2 separate regions of the Homo sapiens genome follow, and region 2 is linked to region 1. Evidence: fine-mapped expression QTL. A gene starts in region 1. The other region holds a variant in brackets. All regions are shown on one strand. Distances are from middle to middle. Region 1 holds the start of PCDHGA11 (protocadherin gamma subfamily A, 11). Region 2 overlaps PCDHGA1 (protocadherin gamma subfamily A, 1).

What was found. PIP is the estimated chance that this variant, and not a neighbour inherited with it, causes the effect.
Region 2: its variant is the best candidate, but not a certain one, in a credible set for the expression of PCDHGA11 in tibial artery (GTEx, PIP 0.78).

The regions. Positions count from the first base shown.
Region 1 is chr5:141,419,236-141,423,628 of GRCh38, forward strand. It overlaps PCDHGA11 (protocadherin gamma subfamily A, 11), which reads left to right and starts at 1,816. Exons shown (of 4, transcript NM_018914.3): 1 at 1,816-4,393. The coding sequence starts at 1,993. The region is part of intron 1 of PCDHGA1 (protocadherin gamma subfamily A, 1); the gene reads left to right. All of the region lies in intron 1 of PCDHGA2 (protocadherin gamma subfamily A, 2), which reads left to right. All of the region lies in intron 1 of PCDHGA3 (protocadherin gamma subfamily A, 3), which reads left to right. It also overlaps PCDHGB1, PCDHGA4, PCDHGB2, PCDHGA5, PCDHGB3 and PCDHGA6, and 9 more genes.
Region 2 is chr5:141,480,489-141,484,881 of GRCh38, forward strand. All of the region lies in intron 1 of PCDHGA1 (protocadherin gamma subfamily A, 1), which reads left to right. All of the region lies in intron 1 of PCDHGA2 (protocadherin gamma subfamily A, 2), which reads left to right. The region is part of intron 1 of PCDHGA3 (protocadherin gamma subfamily A, 3); the gene reads left to right. All of the region lies in intron 1 of PCDHGB1 (protocadherin gamma subfamily B, 1), which reads left to right. It also overlaps PCDHGA4, PCDHGB2, PCDHGA5, PCDHGB3, PCDHGA6 and PCDHGA7, and 11 more genes. Among named protein-coding and RNA genes, the nearest start is that of PCDHGC4, 2.3 kb to the right of the region's middle. The variant A/G (reference allele first, on the strand shown) is at 1,746.

The DNA of each region.
Region 1 (4,393 bases):
CCACGTGCCAGAAAACAACCAGCCGGGTGCCTCCATAGCGCAAGTCAGTGCCTCTGACCCAGACTTCGGGCTCAACGGCCGTGTCTCCTACTCTCTCATTGCCAGCGACCTGGAGTCACGAACGCTGTCGTCCTACGTGTCCGTGAGCGCGCAGAGCGGGGTGGTGTTCGCGCAGCGCGCCTTCGACCACGAGCAGCTGCGCACCTTCGAGCTCACGCTGCAGGCCCGCGACCAGGGCTCGCCCGCGCTCAGCGCCAATGTGAGCCTGCGCGTGTTGGTGGGCGACCGTAACGACAACGCACCGCGGGTGCTGTACCCTGCGCTGGGTCCCGACGGCTCCGCGCTCTTCGACACAGTGCCGCGGGCCGCGCAGCCAGGCTACCTGGTGACCAAGGTGGTGGCCGTGGACGCGGACTCGGGGCACAATGCCTGGCTGTCCTACCACGTGGTGCAGGCCAGTGAGCCCGGGCTCTTCAGCCTGGGGCTGCGAACAGGCGAGGTGCGCATGGTGCGTGCTTTGGGTGACAAGGACTCGGTCCGCCAGCGCCTGCTAGTCGCTGTAAGAGATGGAGGACAGCCACCCCTTTCAGCCACTGCCACGCTGCACCTGGTGTTCGCAGATAGCTTGCAAGAGGTACTGCCGGATTTCAGCGACCATCCCACACCCTCTGACTCCCAGGCTGAGATGCAGTTTTACCTGGTGGTGGCCTTGGCCTTGATTTCTGTGCTCTTTCTCCTCGCGGTGATTCTAGCTATTGCTCTACGCCTGCGACAGTCTTTCAGCCCTACTGCAGGAGACTGCTTTGAGTCAGTTCTCTGCTCCAAGTCCGGACCTGTGGGTCCCCCCAACTACAGTGAGGGAACGTTGCCCTATGCCTATAATTTTTGTGTGCCTGGGGATCAAATGAATCCAGAATTTAATTTTTTCACATCTGTTGATCATTGTCCAGCCACACAAGATAACCTCAACAAAGATAGCATGCTACTGGCTAGCATTTTAACTCCCAGCGTTGAAGCAGATAAGAAGATTCTTAAACAGGTAAGTATTTAAAAATGTATTTAATCCTTTTTATATTACAATATGCCAATATATTCCAATATAGTGGTATTATTTTAAGATTCTAGATAACTTCTTCATAGAGTTCGCAAAATATAGGTCAAATTTATGGTTATCATTATTAAAACAAAAGTTTAAATTAAATGCCTCAGTCTTCCTACTATTCAAAGACATTTTAAAGCAAACTACATGGGTAATCTCCGGTGACATTTTTATGAAGTAAAATACCTTTCGGTTAAAAATATAAAATACAGGTATATTTTTACGGCATGGTATTTTAATTGAAACCCTGATGCTACTCAATTTTTCTCAAGTATTTCATCTTCATTTACTCAATAAAGGAACCTTGTAAGAATTATAGTTAGGCATCCTACCTGATGATTTTATCGGGACCGTATTATTTCCACTTCCAGAAATGTCGTTCCTTTCAGTCGGTTAAAATCAATTGGAACCAACTACAACCTACAAGTTTTCAGCTCCAGTAATATTTTGAAAACTTTTTAAAAATTAAGCAAGCCCTTTTAATAATTACTCCTTTCGCAGGTGTTCTTGGTAAAGTTTTAACGTCACATAATGTAAGTATTGTGTATCATCGTTTTTAAGCTCTACAAATACGTGTGATTCACAAAGGTGAGCGTAATCATTTCTTCTGGAATTTCTTAGTCGTTGCAATAATAAGAATGGGCTCTAGGCGCCGCTGCTCACCAATCAGGGAATGGGAAGCTGCGCGCCATTGAGTCCCTCCCTCCCCCGCCTCTACCACACAAAGCGGAATGAGATGGATACTCACAGATCCTGACACTGGAGACTTAGAAGTATTTTCCTTCGCTTTCTGATATATTTTGGATGTAGTCGGCCTAGGACTTCATAGATACATAAGCCGATTCACAACCAACCAGCTCGAGAAACCGCGGAATATCGGCTTAGAGCCTGCCATGGCGAATCGGCTACAGCGCGGGGACCGCAGTCGGCTGCTGCTGCTGCTGTGCATTTTCCTGGGGACGCTGCGGGGGTTCCGGGCCAGGCAGATCCGATATTCGGTGCCAGAAGAGACCGAAAAGGGCTCCTTCGTGGGCAATATCTCCAAGGACCTGGGGCTGGAGCCCCGGGAGCTGGCGAAGCGCGGAGTCCGCATCGTCTCCAGAGGGAAGACACAGCTTTTCGCTGTGAATCCGCGAAGCGGCAGCTTGATCACGGCAGGCAGGATAGACCGGGAGGAGCTCTGTGAGACGGTGTCCTCCTGTTTTTTAAATATGGAACTTCTCGTGGAAGACACCTTGAAGATTTACGGAGTGGAGGTGGAAATAATAGATATTAATGATAACGCCCCCAGCTTCCAGGAGGACGAAGTGGAGATAAAAGTCAGTGAGCACGCAATTCCTGGGGCGCGATTTGCTCTTCCTAATGCTAGGGATCCAGATGTGGGCGTGAACTCCCTCCAGAGCTACCAGCTCAGCCCTAATAATTACTTTTCCTTGCAACTGCGGGGCAGAACGGATGGGGCCAAGAATCCAGAGCTAGTACTGGAGGGAAGCCTGGACCGAGAGAAAGAGGCTGCTCACCTGCTCCTCCTCACAGCTTTAGATGGAGGCGATCCCATCCGAAAGGGCGCAGTTCCCATTCGTGTGGTGGTCCTCGATGTAAATGATCACATCCCAATGTTTACACAGTCCGTATATCGCGTGAGTGTTCCAGAAAACATCAGCTCCGGAACTCGGGTGCTGATGGTTAATGCAACGGATCCAGACGAGGGAATCAACGGGGAAGTAATGTATTCATTTCGGAACATGGAAAGCAAGGCTTCTGAAATATTCCAATTGGATTCACAAACTGGAGAAGTTCAAGTACGGGGGTCTCTGGATTTTGAAAAATATAGATTCTATGAGATGGAAATTCAAGGCCAAGATGGTGGAGGTCTCTTTACCACCACGACGATGTTGATCACTGTTGTGGATGTGAATGATAACGCTCCAGAAATAACTATCACCTCTTCTATTAATTCAATTCTGGAAAACTCTCCTCCAGGTACAGTGATTGCTCTTCTAAATGTGCAAGATCAAGATTCTGGAGAAAATGGTCAAGTCTCCTGTTTTATTCCTAACCACCTGCCTTTTAAATTAGAAAAGACTTATGGAAATTATTACAAATTGATAACAAGCAGAGTGCTGGACAGGGAGTTGGTCCAGAGCTACAATATAACGTTGACAGCCACAGACCAGGGAAGCCCGCCTTTGTCTGCAGAAACTCATGTCTGGCTGAATGTGGCAGATGACAACGATAACCCTCCCGTTTTTCCTCACTCCTCTTACTCTGCCTACATTCCCGAAAACAACCCCAGGGGTGCCTCCATCTTCTCAGTGACCGCCCTCGACCCGGACAGCAAACAGAATGCCCTGGTCACTTACTCTCTGACGGATGACACTGTCCAGGGGGTGCCTCTGTCCTCCTATGTCTCTATTAACTCCAACACTGGTGTTCTCTATGCCCTACAATCCTTCGACTATGAGCAGTTTCGAGACTTAGAACTGAGAGTGATAGCACGTGACAGCGGGGACCCGCCCCTCAGCAGCAACGTGTCGCTGAGCCTGTTCGTGCTGGACCAGAACGACAATGCGCCCGAGATCCTGTACCCTGCCCTCCCCACAGACGGCTCCACTGGCGTGGAGCTGGCGCCCCGCTCTGCGGAACCTGGCTACCTGGTGACCAAGGTGGTTGCGGTGGACAAAGATTCAGGCCAGAACGCCTGGCTGTCCTATCGCCTGCTTAAGGCCAGCGAGCCGGGACTCTTCGCGGTGGGGGAGCACACGGGCGAGGTGCGTACAGCGCGGGCACTGCTGGACAGAGACGCGCTCAAGCAGAGCCTCGTGGTGGCCGTCCAGGACCACGGCCAGCCCCCTCTCTCGGCCACCGTCACGCTCACCGTGGCTGTGGCCGACAGCATCCCCGAAGTCCTGGCGGACCTCGGCAGCCTCGAGTCTCTGGCTAACTCTGAAACCTCAGACCTCTCGCTGTACTTGGTGGTGGCGGTGGCCGCAGTCTCCTGCATCTTCCTGGTCTTTGTCATCGTGCTGCTGGCACTCAGGCTGTGGCGCTGGCATAAGTCACGCCTGCTGCAGGCTTCTGAAGGCGGGTTGGCAGGTATGCCCACGTCACATTTTGTAGGCGTGGACGGGGTACAGGCTTTCCTGCAAACCTATTCCCACGAGGTCTCTCTCATTGCGGACTCGCAGAAGAGTCACCTGATTTTCCCCCAGCCCAACTATGGGGACACGCTCATCAGCCAGGAGAGCTGTGAGAAAAGCGAGCCACTCTTGATAGCTGAAGACTCAGCTATCA
Region 2 (4,393 bases), 61 kb after region 1:
TTAGAAATACACATATGAGAACAACCAAAAATGACAAAGTAGAAGCACATATGAAAAGGCTAAGAAAGCATGAAAGCCAGCAAGAAATAACTGCCGCTCTTCTGGTCAGCCTGGAAAGCAACTGGCATTTTCCCTAGAACAATGTTTTCAAACTTGGTTGCACATTAAAATCACCTAGAGACCTTTTAAAAATTCTGAAACCCAGGCCACACCCCGACAAATGAAAGCACAGTCTCTGGGGGTGGGACATAGGCATCATTTTTTGAAGGTCCCCACTTGATCCTAATGTGCAGACAAATTTGAAAACCACAGCTTTGGGAGGCTGAGGTGGGTGGATCATAAGATCAGGAGTTTGAGACCAGCCTGGCCAATATGGTGAAACCCCGTCTCTACTAAAAATGCAAACATTAGCTGGGCATGGTGGCGCATACCTGTAGTCCCAGCTACTCTAGAGGCTGAGGCGGAAGCATCAGTGAGGGAGAATCAGTGAACCCAGGATGTGGAAGTTTCAGTGAGCCCAGATCACACCACTGCACTCCAGCCTGGGCGACAGAGCGAGACTCCACCTCAAAAACAAAAAGAAAGAAAGAAAAAAGAAAAGCAGTACTCTGGAACCTACCAATCCATCATTTAGCATATTTGTGAAGTAAAGTGTTATTCTGGTATTTGCAGAACCAGAATCCAGCTTTATTGGGCCAGGCCCAATTTTTTTAAAAAACATGGTAAGGTCTCCCAGCCTTAAAGTATTACATAGCATAGCTCTAAAAGATCACTGTAGGAAGACATAAAATGGTATTTCAGTCATCTAAGGGAAAAACCTTCCTAAAGCACTAGCCCCTGGACAACTATTATTTAAACATCTACAGCTGTTCAATAGATATTGGGTTCTTTTTGGAGGGATGTGACAAAATTCTTGTATAATTAGATTGTGATGATGATTGTATCAGTTTAGTACATGTAAATACACTGAAAACCATTGGATTATACACTTTAAATATGTGATTTGCATGGTATGTGAATTATGTCTCAGTAAAAATCTAGAGATGGGGCTGGGCTCAGTGGCTCACGCCTGTAATCCCAGTACTTAGGGAGGCTGAGGCCAGCGGATCACCTGAGGCCAGGAGTTCAAGACCGGCCTGGCCAACATGGTGAAACTTCATCTCTACTAATAATACAAAAATCAGGCCGGGCCTGGTGGCTCACGCCTGTAATCCCAGCACTTTGGGAGGCGGAGGCGGGCGGATCACGAGGTCAGGAGTCCAAGACCAGCCTGGCCAACATGGTGAAACCCCGTCTCTACTAAAAATACAAAAATTCACCAGGCGTGGTGGCTGAGGCAGGAGAATCGCTTGATGGTGGAGGTTGCAGTGAGCCGAGATCGCGCCACTGCACTCCAGCCTGGGTGAAAGAGCGAAACTCCATCTCAAAAAAAAAAAAAAAAAAAAAATCAGCCAGATGTGGTGGCAGGTGCCTGTAGTCACAGCTACTTGGGAGGTTGAAGCAGGAGAATCGCTTTATCTCAGGAAGCAGAGGTTGCAGTGAGCCAAGATCATGCTGTTGCATTCCAGCCTGGGCAACAAGAACAAAACTCACTCCATCTCAAAAAAAAAAAAAAAATATCTAGAGATGGGAGAATCATATGGCTGGCATAAAAAGGTCAAGTCAAAGATATGTAAGATTAAGGCTTTACGATGCTCCAGTTCTAGTAAAACAGACCAGGTACTTGTTTTGGTGTGAAATTGCCA[A/G]TATAAGTATAGTACTGTACATATTAGTTGTTTAGCTTAGGTAAGTCTTTTAATCTCTTTAAACTCCAGTTTCCTCATCTATAAAATAAAGAGAATATCTACTTTGCAAACTTGTTGTGAGAGTGAAAAGTAATGCATATAAAGTCCCTGTATGGAGCAAGTACTCAATAACTATTTGTTGAACTAAAAATGATAATACTGATATTCACCATTTATTAGCATCCCTATGTGCCAGACACTGTAAACAATTAAAAGTTATCATTCTGGTACCCAGAGTACAGTATGAGACAGACATGCAAAAAAAAAAAAAAAAAAAGATAATGGAGATCTGCATAGCATAAGATGCAGTGGGACCAAACGGGAAAAAACACCTAAATGAGCCTGGAGAAAGGAAGAAATGATAGAGGTGGTGATGCTTGAGCTATGATCTAAAGGTTGAGTAGTAGCTTGTCAGACAGTAAAGGGGAAAGGACAGGGCAGGGAGGGGCCATTGCAAGAAATTCCATGCAGAGGGATTATGGTATTTCATTATCACTGAACCTTAAACTGTGTGTGTGGCCGGGTACGGTGGCTCATGCCTGTAATCCTAGCACTTTGGGAGGCCAAGGTGGGCAGATCACTTGAGGTCAGGAGTTTGAAACCAGCCTGGCCAACATGGTGAAACCTCATCTCTATTAAAAATACAAAAAATTAGCCAGGTGTGGTTGTGGGTGCCTGTAATTCCAGCTACTTGAGCAGCTACTTGAGAGGTCGAGGCAGGAGAATTGCTTGAACCCGGGAGGCAGAGGTTGCAATGAGCTGGTGTCAGGCCACTGCACTCCAGCATGGGCAACAGAGAGAGACTCCATCTCAAAAAAAAAGTGTGCGTGTAAAACAGACAGTCTTTGTAGGAGATGAGGTGAAGCAAGTAGGCAGGAGTTAGATCCTGAGTTACCTTTGGGCCAAGCCAAGGAGTTTTTATTTTATTCCATATAGATGACAGTCACTGCAGAAATTTGAACTGATATGCATATATCATGAGGTTTTTTTGTTTTAGAAATATTATTCTGTCAGTCATAAGTGAAGGGACTGGGGACATTGGGACTGGAGGCAAAGAGATCTTATCTCTTTGCAATAGTTTGAAAGCTATTGCAATATTTGAAGAGAAGATTGATAAATGCTTGAACCAGCACAGTGGCAGTACAGATGGAGGGAGCTGACTACAATAAAATCATCAGGACTTGTTGATTGACATGATATAGGAAGTGAGGGACAGGGATGAGTCAAGGCTGATCCCCCTAGATCCTGACTAAGGAAGCTGGGTGGTTGACAGTGCCATTCACAGAGACAGTGAATTCTGGCATAAACACCTAATAGGTCAGGCTGGTTTACACCTCCATCATTCCCATGGGAGAAGGTATAGAGGGGTGTGTGTTTGTGTGTGTGTGTGTGTGTGTAAAAGAACACAGAAAGCCAGATTCCTCTTTTTGACACCAGAATATTGGTTCCCACCATAGTCAAAAGGATATTCCTGAGGATCGAGGCTTGGAAAAATATTGGGGAAGGATAAGAACTCCAGTTGTTGCTGCTTTTTTTGGCAGCCAGTGTAACCTAGGTAAGGACTTGGTTGAATTAAGAAATTTCATGTCCAGATCAGGATGGATTTTTCTATTTCTCTGAGCTCTGGTGTGTTTCCCACTCAGATTGCAGGTCGTAGGTACCTACGGTGTGAATTGTGTTGTGTTTCTGTGCTTGTGCAAGGGAGTAGCTAGGTTGCTGGGAGGTCTGGATGAGGGTGGGGGTGGGGTGAGATCAAGTCTCCAGCTCCAAGAGGTCCCCTGGGGCTAAGTGAAAAGCTTGCTCTTTTGAAATGGTCTTCGTTGGTAATTAACAAAAGATCAAGAATACCTTGGTGTCAGATAAAGGGAATTTGTAGGCACAATGCTGTTGGTAGCTGATCTCAATCATTCAAGGAAGCTATTAAATCTATGAACATTAGCATTCTGCCAGGTAAAGAGATCTGGTCCTTAGCACCTCCCAGACACACTGATTCTTTACTGTTTTGAAACATCTCCCTCTCCTGGCTTCCTCCACCCCGCTTCCATACTGTCCTTGAAATCAATGAATGGTAATTTAGTGTATCTAGTGTATCACTAGCAAATGTCTGAATAAGAAAGGTTTGGTTTCCGCTGTGTCTCCTGTTACAATGAGAACATGTACTGCATAAATTTAATTGGCTACGTTAATGTGTAAGCCTTTTCTGCAAAGAGATGGATCCGTTTCTGAATATTCTGCAGAAGGGCAGAGTTTTGAGTATATGGCAGTGGTTCTAATTAGCAGTTGCTCCAATACAATCAGACTGAGACGGAAGCTACTCATTTAGAATACTGGTTGATGACAACACTGGCTTGAACAAAGTGACCACTCTCCAATGGCTACTCTCCCTCTCAGTGGGCCGCAGGTTGCTAGGGCTCAGGCTGTGGCTGTTTTCCCCGCCGAAAAGGGGCGGGGTCAGTCGGTGTGTTAGGAAAAAAAATGTATATATATATATATGTTGTCTGCCTCCCCACAGAGATAACAACCCGTGGAAAAACATGCCGTTGAGCGGGAGGAAGGCGAAAAGATAGGCTGGGTTTTTTGGGGGGTGGGGGAGCGTGGAGGATAGGGTG